Linked DNA regions of Homo sapiens. The protein of the gene in region 1 binds, or shares a complex with, the protein of each later gene. Each region holds a gene or a part of one and is shown in the gene's direction. Other genes may lie near its edges.

Region 1 (5,971 bases):
TCCTGAGTTAATCTCTGAGCTTTGTCTCACTGACTTTGATCAACTGTTTTAGATAATGAGATTATGTATTACAGAGTACTGTATGTTACATCTTTCATATATGACTCATTGTTGAAATTAAATTGAGTATGGGCTCACATACATTAAACAGATTAACAGACTGGAAAGGAGCCATACTGTCTAAGTACTTCACTTATTTTTCTGATTTTATTGAGTTTTACATATAATTTATAATTAATCTCAGGTGATCATTTATTCAGCAAACATTTCTTGAACTCCTGGGTGCCAGACATAGGTCTAGGTGCCGGGGACAAACAAAACAATGAAAACAGAATCCCTGCTTTTAGTCTAAATAATGTATTAGTGGTAATAAGTGATATGAAGAAAAGTAAGGTGAAGAGCTGGAAAATGTTAGTGGTTGGGGAGGTAGTGTGCTCCTTCATAAACTGTGATCAGGAAAGGCCTTTTGGATGAAGTGACTTTTGATCAGAGACCTAAGTTGAGCGTGAGAGGAGTGAGCCTTGTGACTGTCTGGGGGAAGAATCTTCCAGGCAGGAAAAATGCAAAAGCCCCAGGTTGGTGGGAGTGTGCCAGTGTGGCTGGAGCAGAGTGAGCAAGGGAGGGGGGCAGGTGGGATATGAGGTCAGAAGGGTAGCAGGAGGGCAGGTCTTGTTCAGCCATGGTAAAGGGTTTGGCTTGACTCCTGGTGAAATGGAAAGTCTTGGGTGTGGGGGCGGTTTAAGCAGAGAAATGATAGGATCTGATGTATATTTTTAAAGGATCATTAAGTCTGGTGTGGTGAATAGACTCTTGGGGGAAGAGGGAACAAAGGTGGGCATAGAGAGACCAGTTAGGAGGCACTGAGAGGAGGGGAGGGATGGTAGAGTTTTAGAATAGAGGAGGAGGTTGAAATGGTTGTTTTGGAGAATGGAAGCGAGAATAGAGAAATGTAATAGGATTGCCATGCAGCAGGAAGGGCTCAGTTGAGGTTAGTGATACATTATAGCAAGATGTTTTGTTTCTTTCCTATCTTGTTCAGCTGCTTGACAGCAGGTGCAATTTGTCTGTAGGAATCTGTAGATGAGTTCAGCAAGGAGGGAGTGGTAGATGGAATGATCTGATAGAATGAGTTTCAGTGGGGCTATGGAGTTTTAGGGATGAGCGAGATAGAAGCAGCAATGAAGAGCAATAACTCATATTACCAAACCTCCAGGGTTAAGGTAGTGTGTGAGAGAGAAACAGTAAAGCAGTTGAGGTATTTACAGAAGCAGTGTCTTCAGGGGCTAGCTAAGTTTCCCTTAGAGTAGAGGTGGTCATCTATAGCCCTTATGCCAAAACTGGTTTGTTTGTTTTTTTTAAGTTTTATTGGAACACAGCCAAGCCCATTTGTTTACATAATGTTACCTGTTGTCACATATTGTCTGTGGGCACCTTCTAGCTACATGTGGGGTTGGGTACTTGTCACGCCTACAAAGCCTCAAGTATCTGGCCCTTCACAAAAAAAGTTTGCTGACCCCTATGTAAGAGCAAGAAAGTAAAAGGAACAATTAAAACAGTCTCAGAATTGGTAAATAAACTGATGTTTTTCTTTATCTTGGATTGTTAGAACCCTTACAGTTCATTTATGTGACATAAATATACAAATGATTTAGAATGACATAGTTACATTGGGTCTTTTTTGCAGATCGTGATACTGTAAATGAAAAACTTGCTATGTCATTTTAAGGTTTCTCTTTCAGGTGTTGACCAACCATAAAGATAAGGATGTGTCCTTCCTAGACACTTAATAGTAGCTACAGAGTATAAAACTTTTCCCAATTGCCTTTAATTTTGGTTACTGTGTTCATTTTCTCATAACATCCTGATGATTTGTTTTGACCATATTTGGCCTTGTTTATTTTAAGAACATTTCATTTGATTTTGAGACAATAGAAAGTAAGCTTTGCTTAAAAGAAAAGAACTTCAGTTTTACTCTATTGCCCTGGACTAGAATCATAACAGTATGAGACCTTGAAGAAGTCATGCAAGTCCTCTTTTTTTTTTTTTTTTTTTTTTTTTTTTGAGATTGAGTCTCTGGGCTCACTGCAAGCTCCACCTCCCAGGTTTACGTCATTCTCCTGCCTCAGCCTCCCGAGTAGCTGGGACTACAGGCACCCACTACCATGCCCGGCTAATTTTTTTGTATTTTTAGTAGAGACGGGGTTTCACTGTGTTAGCCAGGATGGTCTCGATCTCCTGACCTCGTGATCCGCCCGCCTTGGCCTCCCAAAGTGCTGGGATTACACTTGAGCCACCACACCCAGCCATGCAAGTCCTCTTATCCAGACTTTGCTTGACAGCAAAGTGACTTTCCCAAGTGGTCATCTGCCATTGGATGGGAAATTTGCTCTAATTATGTCTTGGATGTTTGGTCTCTCAGTAGGGTGTTAAGTCATGTAATTTACTGATCAAATTAGGACACTCAAGAATGGAAAGGGTGGTATTAATAATGATGGGACACCACGTGTAAATCAGGACTGTTCCAAGCATGCTGGGATGGATGTGTGGTCTCCTAAACATGAGCTTTGGGCAAATTACTAAATGTTTCTGTACCTCAGGTACCAAATATTACGTTCTACTTATATTACAGGACTGTTGCAAGTTTGAGGGAGAGCATATATTTAAAAAGCCATTTTCATAAAGCAGAAAGCACTGTGCACATGTACCATTTCATTATCCTTTCTTTCTCCTTTAGAAATTTAAGATCCGCATTGAAGACCCACCCCGCAGAAAGCACATGGTATTCCTGGGTGGTGCAGTTCTAGCGGATATCATGAAAGACAAAGACAACTTTTGGATGACCCGACAAGAGTACCAAGAAAAGGGTGTCCGTGTGCTAGAGAAACTTGGTGTGACTGTTCGATAAACTCCAAAGCTTGTTCCCGTCATACCCGTAATGCTTTCTTTTTTCCTTTATTGCCAATCTTTGAACTCATTCAACTCCAGGACATGGAAGAGGCCTCTCTCTGCCCTTTGACTGGAAAGGTCAAGTTTTATTCTGGTGTCTTGGGGAAGCTTTGTTAAATTTTTGTTAATGTGGGTAAATCTGAGTTTAATTCAACTGCTTCCCTACATAGACTAGAGGGCTAAGGATTCTGTCTGCTGCTTTGTTTCTTCTAAGTAGGCATTTAGATCATTCCTATAGGCTTCCTATTTTCACTTTACTGCTCTAATGCTGCTAGTCGTAGTCTTTAGCACACTAGGTGGTATGCCTTTATTAGCATAAAACAAAAAAAACTTTAACAGGAGCTTTTACATATTACTGGGATGGGGGGTGGTTCGGGATGGGTGGGCAGCTGCTGAACCCTTTAGGGCATTTCCTCTGTAATGTGGCGCTTTCAACTGTACTGCTGCAGCTTTAAGTACCTTAAAGCTTCTCCTGTGAACTTCTTAGGGAAATGTTAGGTTCAGAACTAAAGTGTTTTGGGTGGGTTTTGTTGCGGGGGGGAGGGTAACAATGGGTGGTCTTCTGATTTTTATTTTTGAGGTTTTGTCAACTGGAGTACGTAGAGGAACTTTATTTACAGTACTTTGATTTGGCAGGTTTTCTTCTACTTGTGCTCTGCCTGGAGCTGTTTCCATATGATATAAAAAGCAAGTGTAGTATTCCATTACTATGTGGCTTAGGGATTTATTTGTTTTTTAAAATCAACCATGTTAGCTGGGATTAGACTCCCTACAGTCCTTCAATGGAAAAGTAACATTTAAAAATCCTTTGGGTAATTCGAATTACAGATTTAAAAGAGCTTAAGATCTGGTGTTTTGTTAATGCTTCTGTTTATTCCAGAAGCATTAAGGTAACCCATTGCCAAGTATCATTCTTGCAAATTATTCTTTTATATAACTGACCAGTGCTTAATAAAACAAGCAGGTACTTACAAATAATTACTGGCAGTAGGTTATAATTGGTGGTTTAAAAATAACATTGGAATACAGGACTTGTTGCCAATTGGGTAATTTTCATTAGTTGTTTTGTTTGTTTTGATTTGAAACCTGGAAATACAGTAAAATTTGACTGTTTAAAATGTTGGCCAAAAAAATCAAGATTTAATTTTTTTATTTGTACTGAAAAACTAATCATAACTGTTAATTCTCAGCCATCTTTGAAGCTTGAAAGAAGAGTCTTTGGTATTTTGTAAACGTTAGCAGACTTTCCTGCCAGTGTCAGAAAATCCTATTTATGAATCCTGTCGGTATTCCTTGGTATCTGAAAAAAATACCAAATAGTACCATACATGAGTTATTTCTAAGTTTGAAAAATAAAAAGAAATTGCATCACACTAATTACAAAATACAAGTTCTGGAAAAAATATTTTTCTTCATTTTAAAACTTTTTTTTAACTAATAATAGCTTTGAAAGAAGAGGCTTAATTTGGGGGTGGTAACTAAAATCAAAAGAAATGATTGACTTGAGGGTCTCTGTTTGGTAAGAATACATCATTAGCTTAAATAAGCAGCAGAAGGTTAGTTTTAATTATGTAGCTTCTGTTAATATTAAGTGTTTTTTGTCTGTTTTACCTCAATTTGAACAGATAAGTTTGCCTGCATGCTGGACATGCCTCAGAACCCTGAATAGCCCGTACTAGATCTTGGGAACATGGATCTTAGAGTCACTTTGGAATAAGTTCTTATATAAATACCCCCAGCCTTTTGAGAACGGGGCTTGTTAAAGGACGCGTATGTAGGGCCCGTACCTACTGGCAGTTGGGTTCAGGGAAATGGGATTGACTTGGCCTTCAGGCTCCTTTGGTCATAATTTTAAAATATGGGAGTAGAAAACAACAAAGAATGGAATGGACTCTTAAAACAATGAAAGAGCATTTATCGTTTGTCCCTTGAATGTAGAATTTGTTTTTGATTTCATAATTCTGCTGGTAAATGTGACAGTTAAAATGGTGCATTATGTATATATATTATAATTTAGAAATACCATTTTATAATTTTACTATTCCAGGGTGACATAATGCATTTAAATTTGGGATTTGGGTGGAGTATTATGTTTAACTGGAGTTGTCAAGTATGAGTCCCTCAGGAAAAAAAAAAAATTCTGTTTTAAAAAGCAATCTGATTCTTAGCTCTTGAAACTATTGCTACTTAAATTTCCAATAATTAAAAATTTAAAATTTTTAAATTAGAATTGCCAATACTTCTACATTTGAGAAGGGTTTTTTTAGAAATACATTTAGTAAAGTCCCCAAGACATTAGTCTTACATTTAAACTTTTTTCTTTAAAACATGGTTTTGGTGGTTAACTTTTACACAGTTCTGAGTACTGTTAATATCTGGAAAGTATCTTGAGATATCAGTGGAAAGCTAAACAGTCTAAATTAACATGAAATACTTCATTTTGATTGAGAAAATAAAATCAGATTTTTTCAAAGTCAATTTGAATTTTGTCATTTCTTTCTAATAGTTATTTCTTGTTTCATTTTCTTGTTAATGCAAGATGAATTGACAGTTTATGCTAGTTGTTAGGTCAAGTTCATGTCAGTGTTCTATTATTGACAAAACAACTCATTATTTCTGGTATGATTTTATAAATACATAAGAAAATAGAATAGCGATTTATAGCTACATCAGAGGCTGTTTTCTTCCAACAAACTGTTTTGTCTCCCAAAAGATTTAAGGTGGCTTTCACAGAATTAGAAATGCTAAAGAGACCTGTATGTAACATGCCCCCTTTCAAGGACATATTAGCTCATCTGCAGACTTTTAGGCATATTATTTTTAACAAATAAAAGAAGGATGAAAATACATTTAACTGACCTTTTCTTGTTTTATACTAGCCTTGAGGATGAGGGCTGGAGAGTAGAGAGAGTATTTTTGCCTTTCCTTCTTCGTGGACTTGTATGTGCAAACCTCATTGCCCGCTTCAGGGCCGGAGTCCCAGACAGCGAACGTAAGGGTTGTCTCTGGTGTTTTATCTAGTTTC
Region 2 (3,635 bases), on another chromosome or scaffold:
AGGTCGAGGCTTCTGAACTGAGCTATGGTCGTACCTCTGCACTTCAGCCTCGGCGACACAAAACCTGTCTCAAAAAAAAAAAAAAAAGAGCCAGGCCCGGTGGCTCACACCTGTAATCCCAGCAATTTGGGAGGCCAAGGAGGGCAGATCACCTGAGGTCAGGGGTTCAAGACCAACCTGGCCAACATGGCAAAACCCCATCTCTACTAAAAATACAAAAATTAGCCGGGTGTGGTGGTGGGCGCCCATGGTCCCAGCTGCTCGGGAGGCTGAGGCAGGAGAATTGCTTGAACCCAGAGGCAGAAGTTGCAGTGAGCCAAGGGTGAGCCACCGAGACTCCATCTCAAAAACAGAAAAAAAAAGATATTTACTTCTTGCTCACATTTTATGTCCAGTGTGGGTGTTGTGAGGTGCTCTGATGGAAGCTGTCCCCAGCATGCTGTCCCAGATGCCACGAGGGAGCCGGAACCTGCGGAATCATGCCCTGGGTCTTAACATTTCTGCCCACATTTTATTGGCAGGTGCAATGGCAAGGCCACGCCTAATGCAAAGGGCGAGAGTTCGGGGTGTGCGGTTCCTCCAGGTGTCCAGGAAGGGCACTGCTCTCCCTCCCCTCCGCCCACATCTGTCAAGTCCCTTTTCACCCCTCTGCAAACATAATGGGGGTGCCAGGGCCAGGTCAGGCTTGCTTTTTGCCTAGAAAAGCAAACAGCTGCAGGGGTCTCCCCTAGAGCAGGTGTAACTGGCTGGGCAGGACAGAAGGCGCCTGAGCTCCCAGGGAGTCCCAACGCTGGCCTTGCTGGGGGAGGTGGCAGCCCCCAGCATCACCCCCGGTTTTGATACACCTGCAATTCGGGCCTCCCTCGCTGTGGCCCGTCTGTATCCTTGAGCTGGCATCTGCCTCCCGGGCGGCCAGACGCCCGCCTGGCCTTCCCTCCGGCCTCGGTTTCCCCTCCGCGGCGCTCCAATGGCCCCCGCCCTCCGCGCAGGGCCACGACTGCTTCCCGGTGCTGTTCACCTATGACGCCGCCGCGGGGATGCTGAGCTTCGGCGGGCGGCTGGACGTTCCTAAGCAGAGCTCGCAGCGTGGCTTGACGGCCCGCGAGCGCTTCCAGAACCTGGACAAGAAGGCGAGCTCCGAGGGTGGCACGGCTGCGGGCGCGGGCCTAGACTCGCTGCACAAGAACAGCGTCAGGTGAGAGCGGGAGCCGGGCCGGCGGGTGGGCGGGGCCTCGGCTCGCCCAGAAACAGCGTCGGGTGAGGAAGGGGCCTGGAGTCTTCCTCCTGGGGCATTGTGCTGGGACCTTGAGGACTGGGGACCCGGAGGGAGGGTAGGCGTGCCCTCAACTCGCTGCGCCGGAACGGCGTCTGATGAGCGGCGGGCCCGGACACGAGGGGACGGGGCCGATTTGTGGGCGGGGCCTTGGCGCCGTACTAAAACCGCGTGGGGCGGAGGCCGGCAGAGGTCGCGTAGCGGGCCCAGGGTAGGGAGTGGCTTTGACTCGCTGCGGAATAACATCGTTAGTTGTGGGCGGGGCCCATCTTGATCTCACCATAGCAGCCCAGGTGCTAGTGGAGCCTGGGAGGGACACGGTGCGACCGACATAAGACGGGGTCGACCTCTTTAGGTTGCATAAAAATAGCATCAGATGGGGCTGAGCAGCTAGCCTCGCTCTGCATTTCCGGGACTTAGGTGGGGACTGTCGTAGGGCTGGCCCCTACGGTTCTCTGGGGTGGCCAGGCAGTGACCAGCGGGCTTCCTGGGCGGGGTCACAGCTGGGGCGGGTCTATTGCTAGCACTTAGCGAGGTGGGGGCGGAGCTGAGGGTCTCTCCGCAGCCTTCTATGGATCTAGGGTGGGATGGGGAAGAGGCTCTTCAAAGCCCAAAAGCTGCCAGCCACACGTGTCCACCCCGCGGCGAATCAGAGGGAGCGGGAGCTGTATGGCAAGACTGGCCAAGCCCTTCGGTCTGTAAAACCTCCTGTGTCCGCCAGATCCGATGGCTTCCTCAGATGAAACACCTTTGTCCAGCTATCAGCTTAGTCCCTGGCTGCCCCCACCCCCATCTCCTTTTTTGTCCTGTCCAGCTGCACTGCTGGCACTGTGTACACTCCGCAGACACACGTGTCTTTCCTGCCTCCCAGGACTTGAGTGTCCTGTCCCATTTGCCTGCACCTCGCATGCCACTGTCCCCAAGGCAGAACTGACTTCTAAGCCCACTACACCCCCTCGGTACTTCTCACTAAAGCCCGCTCCCCAAGAAGTCTGGGAGCGCCTGGTGGACAGGGTGGGCCTGAGCCCAGCGCCAGCACAGGTTGAATTCATAAGCTCCTCTTCCTCTTTGCAGCCAGATCTCGGTGCTCAGCGGCGGCAAGGCCAAGTGCTCGCAGTTCTGCACCACTGGCATGGATGGCGGCATGAGTATCTGGGATGTGAAGGTGAGGCTTGCCCCTCCTGGCTTCCCGCCATGCCTCCCAGGTCAACCCTTTCCCCCCATCCCCACTCCCTGGAGATGACCCCCATCCTTCACTCCTGCAGAGATGGCACTGCATGGGGATGAGGGGTGGGGGCGGCCCCTTGACATCTGGGCCTTGGTGCTCACTGGGGCACCCGTCTTCAGGGCCGGGATTCCAACCCAGCTGACAGACTCCAAAACTGCAGGTTCTCTGCCCTCTGCTGTGCTGGGGCTGAGATGGGTGATCAGGTCCCTGGGAGTGGGGTGCCTGCAGGACAGCTGAGAACCAGCCTGTCCGTTCTGCCTCCCTGCAGAGCTTGGAGTCAGCCTTGAAGGACCTCAAGATCAAATGACCTGTGAGGAATATGTTGCCTTCATCCTAGCTGCTGGGGAAGCGGGGAGAGGGGTCAGGGAGGCTAATGGTTGCTTTGCTGAATGTTTCTGGGGTACCAATACGAGTTCCCATAGGGGCTGCTCCCTCAAAAAGGGAGGGGACAGATGGGGAGCTTTTCTTACCTATTCAAGGAATACGTGCCTTTTTCTTAAATGCTTTCATTTATTGAAAAAAAAAAAAAATGCCCCCAAAGCACTATGCTGGTCATGAACTGCTTCAAAATGTGGAGGTAATAAAATGCAACTGTGTAAAAAAAAAAAAAAAAAAAAAAGTAATTATGGACATGCTTGCCTATGTGGAAGGAGAGGTTTTTTGTTATTTCCTTGGGGTCTTGCTAAGTTTTCCAGGCTGCACTAGAACTCGTGGGAGCAATCCTTCTGCCTCAGCCTCCCAAGTAGCTGGGACTCCAGGGAGAGATTGGTGTTTGCACGGCCATAGGTAGATAGCTTATTTTTACTGCTTGCCAACAAAATTGATCCTGAAGCCCAACGGCCTTATGCCAAATGGTTCCCTCCCCACTGCTGTCCATCCTGGGCTGCCACTCCCAAAACTGCCAGTACCAGGTGTCACTGATTGACTAGTCAAATTCCTGGACAAAGGGGCTACACACTCCAGGCTGGTTGTGGAACTTTTGTTTTGAGATGGAGTTTTGCTCGTCACCCAGGCTGGAGTGCAGTTGTGCGTTCTCAGCTCACTGCCACCTCTGCCTTCCTGGGATCAAGCGATTCTCCTGCCTCAGCCTCCCAAGTAGCTGGGATTACAGGCATACACCACCAAGCCTGGTTA
Region 3 (5,486 bases), on another chromosome or scaffold:
CCCACTTTAAAACACTTCCAGGCAATTCAGGGTCCTATGGGTGAAGATAAGCTAAGCAATAGGTATTATTCTTAAATATTACTTAGAGATGGGGACTTGCTATGCTGCCCAGGCTGGAGTGCAGTGGCTGTTCACAGGTGTGATCATAGTGCACTGAGGCCTCAAACTCCTGGCTTCAAGCAGTCCTGCCTCAGCCTCCCGAAAAGGTGGAACTACAGGCACATGCCACTGTGCCTTAGCCAATAGGTATTAGAGGTAGTCAAGTAGGTATAGCATAACCAATTACAAACTTTAAAATCAAATGATACTGAATGCTTTTTCATAAAATCCTTCTTAACATCACTTTCATAACTGAAGCGTTTGGAAAAATTCTGGAGTTCATATTTGTTCACAAGAATGGGTGGGTGTATTTAGAATCTGCCAGTCTATCAGCTTTACTGAGGGGAGATACTAAAAATATTTAACAAGTAGTATAATATAGAGACCGAGTCAAAATGGATACTAGCTGGAAACAACTGGTTCAACTGTTGCCTCCTGACTAAATGTCAGCCCAGGGTATAGTAACCATGACACAGTACTATCCTTGGTGAAGAGTTGGGAATAGGATTAATTGCGGAAAAAATATATATAAATGCCATAGGACACTTTTAGCACAAAAGTAGTTGTTTACCTCCCATTCTCCTCCTTTAATCTCAGTGCTTTTACTATTTGGTTTCTTTTTTGGCATTTTACAAAAGGGAAGAAATGGAAAACATACCCCTTCTTGGTCATTGGGTAACAGCACCATTTCGGTAACAGTCATACTTGATGACAAGTATGATGATATTTTAAGGACATGAACATGGGTGAAATCAATGTGTAGATGGTACAAATTAACCGAATTCTTTTTAAAGCATTTCCTGTGGATCCCAGGATCATGAGGACATAACAGAAGAATAAGGTCTGAATCTTGTTCACCAGTTTGCTCTCAGCCTAATTGGGAAGTAAGGTTAAGCACCTGAAAATTATGTCATACAAAAAAAAAGAGAATTAACGTCATACAATTTAGCATTTGACTGTAAATGCAGTTAGTCAATGTTGGGAGAACAACAAAATCAGGGTGGATCAGAGTATTTAAAGTGAGACATTAATTTGAACTAATCCTTTGGAGGGGCAGAAAGGACAAACGGTCCAAGTGAAATGAACAGAGTAGAAAGAGAAAGTTAAAAGTGGGTTTAATAGTCACTGTTCTTGCAGTTTTAATGTTTTTTGTTTTGTTTTGTTTTGTTTTGTTTTGTTTTGTTTTTTTTGAGACAGAGTCTCGCTCTGTGGCCCAGGCGGGAGTGCAGTGGCGCGATCTCGGCTCACTGCAAGCTCTGCCTCCTGGGTTCACGCCATTCTCCTGCCTCAGCCTCCCAAGTAGCTGGGACTACAGGCGCCCGCCACCACGCCCGGCTAATTTTTTGTATTTTTAGTAGAGACGGGGTTTCATTCACCGTGTTAGCCAGGATGGTCTCGATCTCCTGACCTCGTGATCCGCCCACCTCGGCCTCCCAAAGTGCTGGGATTACATGCGTGAGCCACCGCGCCCAGCTGCAGTTTTAATGTTTTTAACATAAGAATTCTAGATGGTGCAAATTATTAACAGGATCAGAAACTATCTCCGTGATAGATTCAAGAAAGTAAAATTATAGGAAATCATAATGTTTTATTAGCTGAAATAGACATTGATGATCACTTAGTTTAACCCCATGTATAAAGGTAAAAAAGAAAATTAATTAATTAATTTTTTTTTTTTGAGATGGAGTCTTGCTCTGTTGCTCAGGCTGGAGTGCAATGGCACAATCTCGGCTCACTGCAGCCTCCACCTCCCAGGCTCAAGCGATTCTCCTGCCTCAGCCTCCTGAGTAGCTCGGATTACAGGCACGCATCACCGTGCCCAGCTAATTTTTGTATTTTTAGGAGAGATGGGGTTTCACCATGTTGCCCAGGCTGGTCTTGAACTCCTGACCTCAGGTGATCCACCCTCCTCCGCCTCCCAAAGCACTGGGATTACAGGCGTGACCACCGCGCCCAGCCAGATTGATTAATTTTTAGATACACAATTTTTCCTTTAGATTTACAACTAACATCCCCTTACAGACAAAATATGTTAAAAGCACCAAAATAATTGAAAAACACACCCAATTAAGGAACAGACCAACGGCCTCTGTAGAACCAAGTGCCCTTAAACAAGGCTGCTTCTGTCCATATTCCTGCCGCGGGACCTCTGCCCCACTCCCTCTCCCCCTCACCCCAATGTCACTAGTACAATATGTGAAAACCCCAATGTGAAAACGTTCTGTGCAGGTGCCTCTTGTATGATTCCAGATATGGAGGAGGCCCGGGAAGCCCACAGAGGTACAGCATGTCATCTGCCTCAAGGTGGTGCTACTTCACCACATTGATGATCCAACCACAAGCAACATGGGACACAGCATTCACTTTAACATTTCTATTTTCCTTTATCATTTCTGTTACTTGAGTGTGTAAGAGTAATCAACATAAATAATCTATGTTTACATCTCTTATTTCTCTCTGAAACAGTTCCCTAGAATCCACACCACATGAAACACAAATTGAGTAGTGTATGACCCACCTGAATTCCAAAGCATTCTAAAACTCCCGTATTTTCCAGCCTAGCAGTTAGCTCCTGCTCTGCAAGACACACCCTCTTGACCTTGCTGCTAGACTGTATGGGCCCCCTGAAGTCATAGTAGCTGGCTCTTACTCATCCCCACATTCACTTGGCATAGTTGATGTTCAACAAATATCTCTTGGTTGCATAACATTGAACGAGCCAAGTCACCTAAGAAATCCTTAATTTATACACAGGTTCTTAGGGTACCTGAATAGGGCAACACATCAGAAGTACAAATTGAGAACTATACAAAGAGTAAAATAATTCTTGGGTTCAAATACCCTAGAGCCAATCAAGTTTAGTCACAAAGAATTTCAATTCACTTCAATGTGGACAGTTAAGAAGGGAATTTATCAGCCTTAGGTGGAAATCAGAGCCACCATGAGTACCACGTGCAGCCCCTATAGTGTTTAGCTTTGCCAGAAGTCACCAGAGAAAGTGGCTGAGGAACAGAATTCCAGCTCATATCTGGCTAACAGTGGCACTATGGGAGTTTATATGATCTGTTCATTATTCTGTGGCATCACCTTCTAAGAGCAGAGATGTGACCCAATACCCCTTGTTTTCCTTAAAGATAACCATTAAATTATATCCATGAATTTATATCACCGTCCTTGACTTTATACGTAGATTTTTCTAATTCTGTCAACCCTTAGGGTAATGAATAACTTAAATGGCCAATGCCTCTGAATAACATCATACTTCCTTTTGTTTCTCCAAAAATTGAATCAAGATGCCAGGGCAACTAAGATTTTCTTCAATTTGCTAAGTTAAAGGTCAGTGTATTCATTAGCCAATGGTTCTGTATTTTATTCATTTTAGTTTTTATTCGTTTTCAAATAATTTGTTCATATTGTTCAATATTCAAAAGGTAAGAAATATGTACTGTGGTAATTTTCCATTCCACCCTAGTTCCTCTTTTGACAACCAACTATTGTCACTTAATTCTTAGGCATCCTTCCAGATACAGTGTATGCATTTACAGGCAAATACCTATATAAGATTTTACCCCTTTGTGTACATAAATACTAACATACTATATATAGTGTTCTGTTCCTTGCTTTTTTCATTAACAGTATATTTTGGTGGTAATTTCCTATCAATACATAAAGAACTTCCTTATTCCCTTCAGAGGCATTTGAACCAGAGCAATTCCTTCTTGAATAGAAGCTGGGTAAAATAAGGCTGAGACCTACTGGGCTGCATTCCCAGATGGTTAAGGCATTCTAAGTCACAGGATGAGATAGGAGGTCAACACAAGATACCGGTCATAAAGACCTTGCTGATAAAACAGTTTGCAGTAAAGAAGCTGGCCAAAACCCACCAAATCCAAGATGGCAATGAAAGTGACCTCTGCCTCTGGCCATCCTCACCGCTACGCTCCCACCGGCACCATGACAGTTTACAAATGCCATGGCAACATCAGGAAGTTATCCTATATGGTCTAAAAAGGGGAGGCATGAATAATACACCCCTTGTTTAGCATATCATCAAGAAATAACCGTTAAAATGGGCAACCAGCAGCCCTCGGGGCTGCTCTGCCTATGGAGTAGCCATTCTTTATTCCTTTACTTTCTTAATAAACTTGCTTTAACTTTACAGACTGGCCTTGAATTCTTTCTTGTGTGAGATCCAAGAACGCTCACTTGGGGTCTGGATTGGGACCACTTTCCGATAACAATTTTATTTTTATGACTGCATAATAATTCTATTATATAAATAAATGTACCATAATTTACTTAACCATTTCCCTATTGATTTAGGTGGTTTCTGATCTTTTGCAGTTACAAACAGTGCTACAGTGAATAGCATTATACACAAGTCATTTTACATATGTTCAAGCCTATTTGTAGATCAATTCCTAAAAGTGAAAGTTAAGGTCAGTTGGAGGGCATTTAAGGGAGATATTGCTAAATTGCCTTTCTTAAAGGTTTTATCAATTATACTTTCTCCAGCCGTGTAGAAGAATGCATGTTTTCCCACCCCTTTACCTATTCTATGTGTTTGTCATAAAACATTTTTTAATCTTTTCAAATCTGATGTTTTAAAAATGGTATCATATATTTGCATTTCTCTTAATGTAAATGAGATTGCACATCTTTTCACATGCCTAATAGCCAGTTGTATTTTCTTTTCTATATTTTTGTATTTCTATATTTTCTTTGCCCTTTTGATGGTCTTTTTCTTACTGATTTGTAGGAGCTCTTTTCAACAGGAATGTCAAATATTTCTTGCATTTTGAGTTTCGCTTTATAATAGCTTTTACTATAAATAAAAAGGTTATTTTTATTTTTATCTAATTGAGTTTATTAATCTTTTCTTATGGCATTTAGAGTTCAAGTCATACTTAGATTTTCCTGGCTCCAAAATTTAAAAATAGAAATTTCATGAAGTGTTCTTGGATGTTTTTATGATTTTAAATTTTAGTTTTTTTATTTTAAAATATTCATATTTTTCTTTTCAACAATTGCTGCTTCAAATGTAAACTAGAAGAGATTAGTTGGTCCCCATATGGAAGTCTTATCCTAATATATTGACTTGGTTGGTTTTCTCAGGACTTGAGGGTGTTTTCTTAAGACAAACTACCCAAAGTATTTCGCACGTGAAAGCACAGTTTCACTGTCATTCAGGCAAGTATTTACATGCTAAGGGCTGCTTAAAATATTTAAAATACAATCCTTATCCTGTGGGATCTAGATTCTAGGTAAGATACACAAGCAATGAATAAAATTCAATAGTAAACAAGCTATAATAGAGAAGAGAGTAAATTCATGTACAATAACAGATGGGGAGCAATTACTTCTCCAAGAGAGAATGTCAAGGAAAA
Region 4 (6,063 bases), on another chromosome or scaffold:
GGATGAAGCCATCTATTACTTCAAGGCCAATGTCTTCTTCAAAAACTATGAAATTAAGGTAAATTACGGAGCTTTTAATATTTAACTTAGTTTTCTCATAGGGATAATACCAACCTTGCTATCCAGATTGCTGTGAGGAGAAAATAAAATGAAATCAGCATGTAATTTTTAAATTCGAGAGCAGTGCTTAATGTTAGCTTTTGTATAAATATTAGTTTCTTTTTTTTTCCTCCAAATTCTATACCAGGGGTTGGCAAACTCTAACCTGAGGGCCACATTTGGCCCACTGCCCCTTTTTATGAATAAACCTTTATTGGAACACAGCCACAACCATTTGTTTCTATATTATCTATAGTTACTTTCACACCAAAACAGCAGAATTGAGTAGTTGTGACAAAGACTGTATGGCCCACAAAACCTAAAAATACTGCCTGCCTTTTACAGAGAAAGTTTGCCAACCCCTTGCTAGAAGTATCTTTATTTATTCAACATTAGTTAAGCAGCACCTACTATGTGCCAGCCTTTTGTTTTGTTTTGAGACAGGGTCTTGCTCCGTCGCCCAGGCTAGAGTGCAGTGGCACAATCACAGCTCACTATACCGTCAACCTCCTGGGCTCAGACAGTCCTCCTGCCTCAGCCTCCCAGGTAGCTGGAACTACAGGCATGCACCACCACACCTGGCTAATTTTTTGTATTTTTAGTAGAGACGGGGTTTCACAATGTTAGGCAGGATGGTGTCTCGATCTCCTGACCTCATGATCCGCTCACCTCAGCCTCTCAGTGTGCTGGGATTACAGGCGTGAGCCACCGCTCCCGGCCCTAAAATGGAATTTCAGCCCCTCCTTGCCAAACTCTGAACTTCTGGAATCAAACAGGTTGTGAATTATTTATTTGTAGACTCTTGGTGTACAAATTGTAGTCTAAACATTCTGTGATGGTAATAGAATGTTTTCTATATCTCATGTGTGGGTTAAGTTTGTAACAGTTATAAATGTTACAATTCTCTGGGCACATTGCTTGAGTTCAGGAGTTCGAGACCAGCCTGGGCAACATGGCGAACCCCCGTCTCTACAAAAAATAGAAAAATTAGTGCATGGTGGCTCACGCCTGTAATCCCAACACTTGGGAGGCTGAGGCGGGTGGATCACATGATGCCAGGAGTTTGAGACCAGCCTGGCCAACAAAGCGAAACCCCATCTCTACCAAAAATACAAAAATTAGCCAGGTGTAGTAGTGCATGCCTGTAATCCCAGCTACTCGGGAGGCTGAAGCACAAGAATTGCTTGAACCCAGGAGGTGATGGTTGCAGTGAGCCGAGATCACACCACTGCACCCAGCCTGGGCGACAGAGCAAGACTGTCTCAAAAAAAAAACAAAAAACTCTGCCACATTTCATTTGTTCCCAGATACTATATTGTCTTAAAAATAGGGAAATGTGGCTGGGCGCAGTGCCTCTGCCCGTAATTTGGGAGGCCAAGGCGGGCGGATCACCTGAGGTCGGGAGCTTGAGACCAGCCTGACCAACATGGGGAAACCCCGTCTCTACTAAAAATACAAAATTAACTGGGCGTGGTGGTGCGTGCCTGTAATCCCAGCTACTTGGGAGGCTGAGGCAGGAGAATCACTTGAACCCAGGAGGCAGAGGTTGCGGTGAGCCAATATCACGCCATTGCACTCCAGCCTGGGCAGCAAAAGTGAAACACTCAAAAAAAAAAAAATATATAGGAAAATGGTGTGGTTTGGGGGTAATTTTTTTGTTGTTTTTTTGTTTTGAGACAGAGTCCCGCTCTGTCACCAGGCTGGAGTGCAATGGCGTGATCTCGGCTCAGTGCAACCCTCGACTCCCGGGTTCAAGTGGTTCTCCTGCCTCAGCCTCCCAAGTAGCTGGGATTACAGGCACGCGCCACCACGCCAAGCTAATTTTTGTATTTTTTGGTAGGGACAGGGTTTCACCACGTTGGCCAGGATGGTCTCGATCTCCTGAGCTCGTGATACACCCACCTTGGACTTCCAAAGTGTTGGGATTACAGGTGTGGGCCACCGCACCCGGCCTTTTTTTTTTTTTTTTTAATTCGAGACAGAGTCTTGCTCTGTTGCCCAGGCTGCAGTGCAGTGGTACAGTCTTGACTCATTACAACCTCTGCCTCCTGGCTTCAAGCGATTCTGTGGCCTTAGCCTCCCTAGCAGCTGGGATTACAGGCGCACGCCACCATGACTGGCTAATTTTTGTATTTTTAGTAGAGACGGTGTTTCGCCATGTTGCCCAGGCTGGTCTCAAACTCCTGGGCTCAAGCAATCCACCCACCTCAACCTCCCAAAGTGCTGGGATTACAGGCATAAGCCACTGCACCTGGCCTAAATTTGTGTAAAATTTGACCCAAAGTCCATACCACATTTGATCAACATTCATTTGTCTTCTCCACATTTTCTTTTTGGTTAGGTCAAGACATTGAGATTATGGAGTTCTTTGGGAGCAAGTCAAATGTGAAATAGTTGCTTCCTCCTTTAGAGTAATGACTATTTCTGTTCTCGGCAGAGACCCTGAAGGGAAGGGTTTTTAAAAATTAGCCAACCATATGGAGCAGTTCAGGCTTTCCAGGCAGCTTTGTTACTTCTTCCTATACAGTGAGGGGCTGTTGACACAGATCCTTGGGAACCCTGGGGCAAGGGGAGCCGAGAAAAACAAGAGAGAGCAGCCACTCAGCCGAGCGTGGTGGCTCATGCCTGTAATCCCAGCACTTTGGGAGGCTGAGGTGGACAGATCACTTGAGGTCAGGAGTTCGAGACCAACCTGGCCAACATGGTGAAACCCCGTCTCTACTAAAAATAGAAAAATTAGCCAGGCGTGGTGGCGGGCACCTGTAATCCCAGCTACTCGGGAGGCTGAGGCAGGAGAATTGCTTGAACCTGGGAGGTGGAGGTTGCAGTGAGCTGAGATTGTGCCACTGCACTCCAGCCTGGGCAACAGAGCAAGACTCCGTCTCAAAAAAAAAAAGCAGCTGCACATCTCAGAGTGGGGCTTGTGCCTTCCTCCCAGGGGCAGACGGAAAAGGAGACTGAGGAGACTGTGCATTTGGAGAATGGGAGTTTTGATGTGATAGTGGCTGTCCTACCACTGCATTCAGCAGATAATCAGAAGACAAAGATGGAATGCATACATTGCACATCATTGTTATGTTTTGATAACTGTTTTTAAGTCTTCTTTTTCTCCCTGTAGAATGAAGCTGATAGGACCTTGATATATATAACTCTCTACATTTCTGAATGTCTGAAGAAACTGCAAAAGGTAATTAAACTTGGATGATTGTATATCAGGAAAACAAATTGCTGAGAGGCATTTACCCTCCCAGTCATCTGGGATTTGTTGAGACTTTAAAGACAAGTAGAAAATATTTCCTCTGACTTACAGCATGGACTTAAGAGAAAAATTTGAATTTAGTTACCTGAACTTGTAGTATAATTGACTGACACAAAGATAAAAGTAGTGGTGTTTTAAGGCTTTGAATATATTTTCTCAAGACAGAAATCTTGACAGAGGAATTCCTTTTAAGCCCTTGACTCAAGGGTTCTTAACCTGGGGTCCAAGGATAGAATTCTTCTTTTCCCTGTAAAATATGTGTGTGTGTGTGTGTGTGTGTGTGTGTGTGTGTGTGTGTGTATATATATATATATATTTTTTTTTCCAGTGCAATTCCAAAAGCCAAGGTGAGAAAGAAATGTATACGCTGGGAATCACTAATTTTCCCATTCCTGGAGAGCCTGGTTTTCCACTTAACGCAATTTATGCCAAACCTGCAAACAAACAGGAAGATGGTAAGAACAGGTCTCTATCCTCACTCTGTGACACAAGAAGATTTTCTCCATTTGACTTCCTACCACCCCTCTTTTTCTTGCCTTGATTCATGTACAGATTGAGAGTGAAATCATAGGAAGTACATTATCTTATTAGTCACTCTCACAAACGATTCTTGGCAACAAGGATGACATGCAGAAAATCTTTTGAACAAAAACAAATATAGTTATAAAACTATCTGGACTGTCATTTCTATTTTGTATCCTGTTCAAATGTATAAAAATGTATTACCACAGTGAGCATCCAGAGCTGCAACCAGTACATTTGGGATGTATTTGCAAATACAGTTTTTTTTAAATTGTTCTGTTTTAGAAGTGATGAGAGCCTATTTACAACAGCTAAGGCAAGAGACTGGACTGAGACTTTGTGAGAAAGTTTTCGACCCTCAGAATGATAAACCCAGCAAGGTAAGACCCTCTTCTTGCCTGCTTAATTGGTAAATCACCTTTTATCCCATAGCCACCATTGAACACACTAAGGTCTTCCATTGCAAGAATATTTTTAATTTCTGCATTGCAATGTTGCTTAACTTCCAGTATATGTCTAGTATGTAATATGAGTTCACTGAATCACACTAAATAATGAATTGCAGGCCGGGCGCAGTGGCTCACGCCTGTAATCCCACCACTTTGGGAGGCCGAGGCGAGTGGATCACTTGCGGTCAGGAGTTCGAGACCAGCCTGGCCAACATGGTGAAACCCCCATCTCTACTGAAAATACAAAAAATTAGCCAGGCATGATGGTGTGCACCTGTCATCTCAGCTACTCAGGAGGCTGAGACAAGAGAGTCGCTTGAACCCAGGAAGTGGAGGTTGCAGTGAGCCAAGATCATGCCATTACACTCCAGCCTGAATGACAGAGTGAGACTTTGTCTAAAAAGGGTTTATGGCCAGGCGCGGTGGCTCACGCCTCTAATCCCAGCACTTTGGGAGGCCAAAGCAGGCGGATCATGAGGTCAGGAGATTGAGACCATCCTGGCTAACATGGTGAAACCCCGTCTCTACTAAAAAATACAAAAAATTAGCCAGGCGTGGTGGCAGGCGCCTGTAGTCCCAGCTACTGGGGAGGCTAAGGCAGGAGAATGGCATGAACCCAGGAGGCGGAGCTTGCAGTGAGCCAAGATCACACCACTGCACTCCAGCACTCCAGCCTGGGCGACAGAGCGAGACTCCGTCTCAAAAAAAAAAAAAAAAAGTTTATAAGAGATTCCAGACTAATGTGAAATTTTATTATTAAATAAATGCAAATTCTATTGTAATTTGACCCCGCTGTTCATTCTGTGTTGTTCTCTCTTGTTAGTGGTGGACTTGCTTTGTGAAGAGACAGTTCATGAACAAGAGTCTTTCAGGACCTGGACAGTGAAGGGAGCCCGGGCAGCCACCGTCTCCAGAGCCCTGGGCAGCATTTTCCAGCAAGATGTACACAATCTTTTGCCTTTATTTCGTAAAGTTTTATACAGAAGAGAGAAGAGCATGTCTTTACTTGAAAAACTCTTGATCAAGAATTTGGGTGGGAGAAAAGAAAGTGGGTTATCAAGGGTGATTTGAAATTTTCTGCAGCATTAAAGCTGGCGCTTAATAAGAATAAGTAATAATAAAGAAATTTCTAACATTCCATGTCAGAAAAACTTTATTGCCAGTCTTTGACATTCACTTACAATTTGTTTTGAGATAAAATTCACATTCCATAATGCCCTTTTAAAGTGTACAATTCACTTTTTTTAGTATATACATGAAGTTTTACAACCATCCCCAGTAAATCCAGAGCATTTTCATCACCCCGGTGTAGTGAACCTGCACTCTTTAGCAGCCACCCCACCCCACATTCCTCCCCAAGCCCCCTGTCCCTCCCACCCCTCCTCCCAGTATTAATCTACTTTCTGTCTCTATGGATTTGCTTATTCTGGATAATTCATGTAAATTGAATTTTTTATACAACATGTGGCCTTTTATGTCTAGCTTCTTTGACTTAATGTTTTCTAATTCATCCATGTTAGAGCATATATCAGTGCTTTCTTTTCTCTTTTTCTTTTTTTTCTCTCTGTGTATATGTATGAAATAAAATATACTAATATGGCCAGGCGCAGTGGATCACGCCTGTAATCCCAGCACTTTGGGAGGCCCAGGCGGGCAGATCACCTGAGGTCGGGAGTTTGAGACTAGCCTGACTAACACGGAGAAACCTGGTCTCTACTAAAAATACAAAAACCA

Evidence for each region.
Region 2: ACTR2 (region 1) and ARPC1B share a complex: the UniProt entries of both Homo sapiens proteins name them as parts of the arp2/3 complex.
Region 3: ACTR2 (region 1) and ARPC5 share a complex: the UniProt entries of both Homo sapiens proteins name them as parts of the arp2/3 complex.
Region 4: ACTR2 (region 1) and ARPC3 share a complex: the UniProt entries of both Homo sapiens proteins name them as parts of the arp2/3 complex.

The regions. Positions count from the first base shown.
Region 1 is NC_000002.12:65,265,830-65,271,800, forward strand, and holds the end of ACTR2 (actin-related protein 2), read left to right. Parts: intron 1-2,734; coding exon 2,735-2,905; 3' UTR 2,906-5,424; downstream 5,425-5,971. UniProt on the Homo sapiens protein: ATP-binding component of the Arp2/3 complex, a multiprotein complex that mediates actin polymerization upon stimulation by nucleation-promoting factor (NPF).
Region 2 is NC_000007.14:99,391,682-99,395,316, forward strand, and holds the end of ARPC1B (actin-related protein 2/3 complex subunit 1B), read left to right. Parts: intron 1-989; coding exon 990-1,195; intron 1,196-2,347; coding exon 2,348-2,438; intron 2,439-2,769; coding exon 2,770-2,808; 3' UTR 2,809-3,135; downstream 3,136-3,635. UniProt on the Homo sapiens protein: Component of the Arp2/3 complex, a multiprotein complex that mediates actin polymerization upon stimulation by nucleation-promoting factor (NPF).
Region 3 is NC_000001.11:183,620,314-183,625,799, reverse strand, and holds the end of ARPC5 (actin-related protein 2/3 complex subunit 5), read left to right. Parts: 3' UTR 1-4,954; downstream 4,955-5,486. UniProt on the Homo sapiens protein: Component of the Arp2/3 complex, a multiprotein complex that mediates actin polymerization upon stimulation by nucleation-promoting factor (NPF).
Region 4 is NC_000012.12:110,434,307-110,440,369, reverse strand, and holds the end of ARPC3 (actin-related protein 2/3 complex subunit 3), read left to right. Parts: coding exon 1-58; intron 59-3,217; coding exon 3,218-3,286; intron 3,287-3,686; coding exon 3,687-3,813; intron 3,814-4,165; coding exon 4,166-4,260; intron 4,261-5,152; coding exon 5,153-5,215; 3' UTR 5,216-5,547; downstream 5,548-6,063. UniProt on the Homo sapiens protein: Component of the Arp2/3 complex, a multiprotein complex that mediates actin polymerization upon stimulation by nucleation-promoting factor (NPF).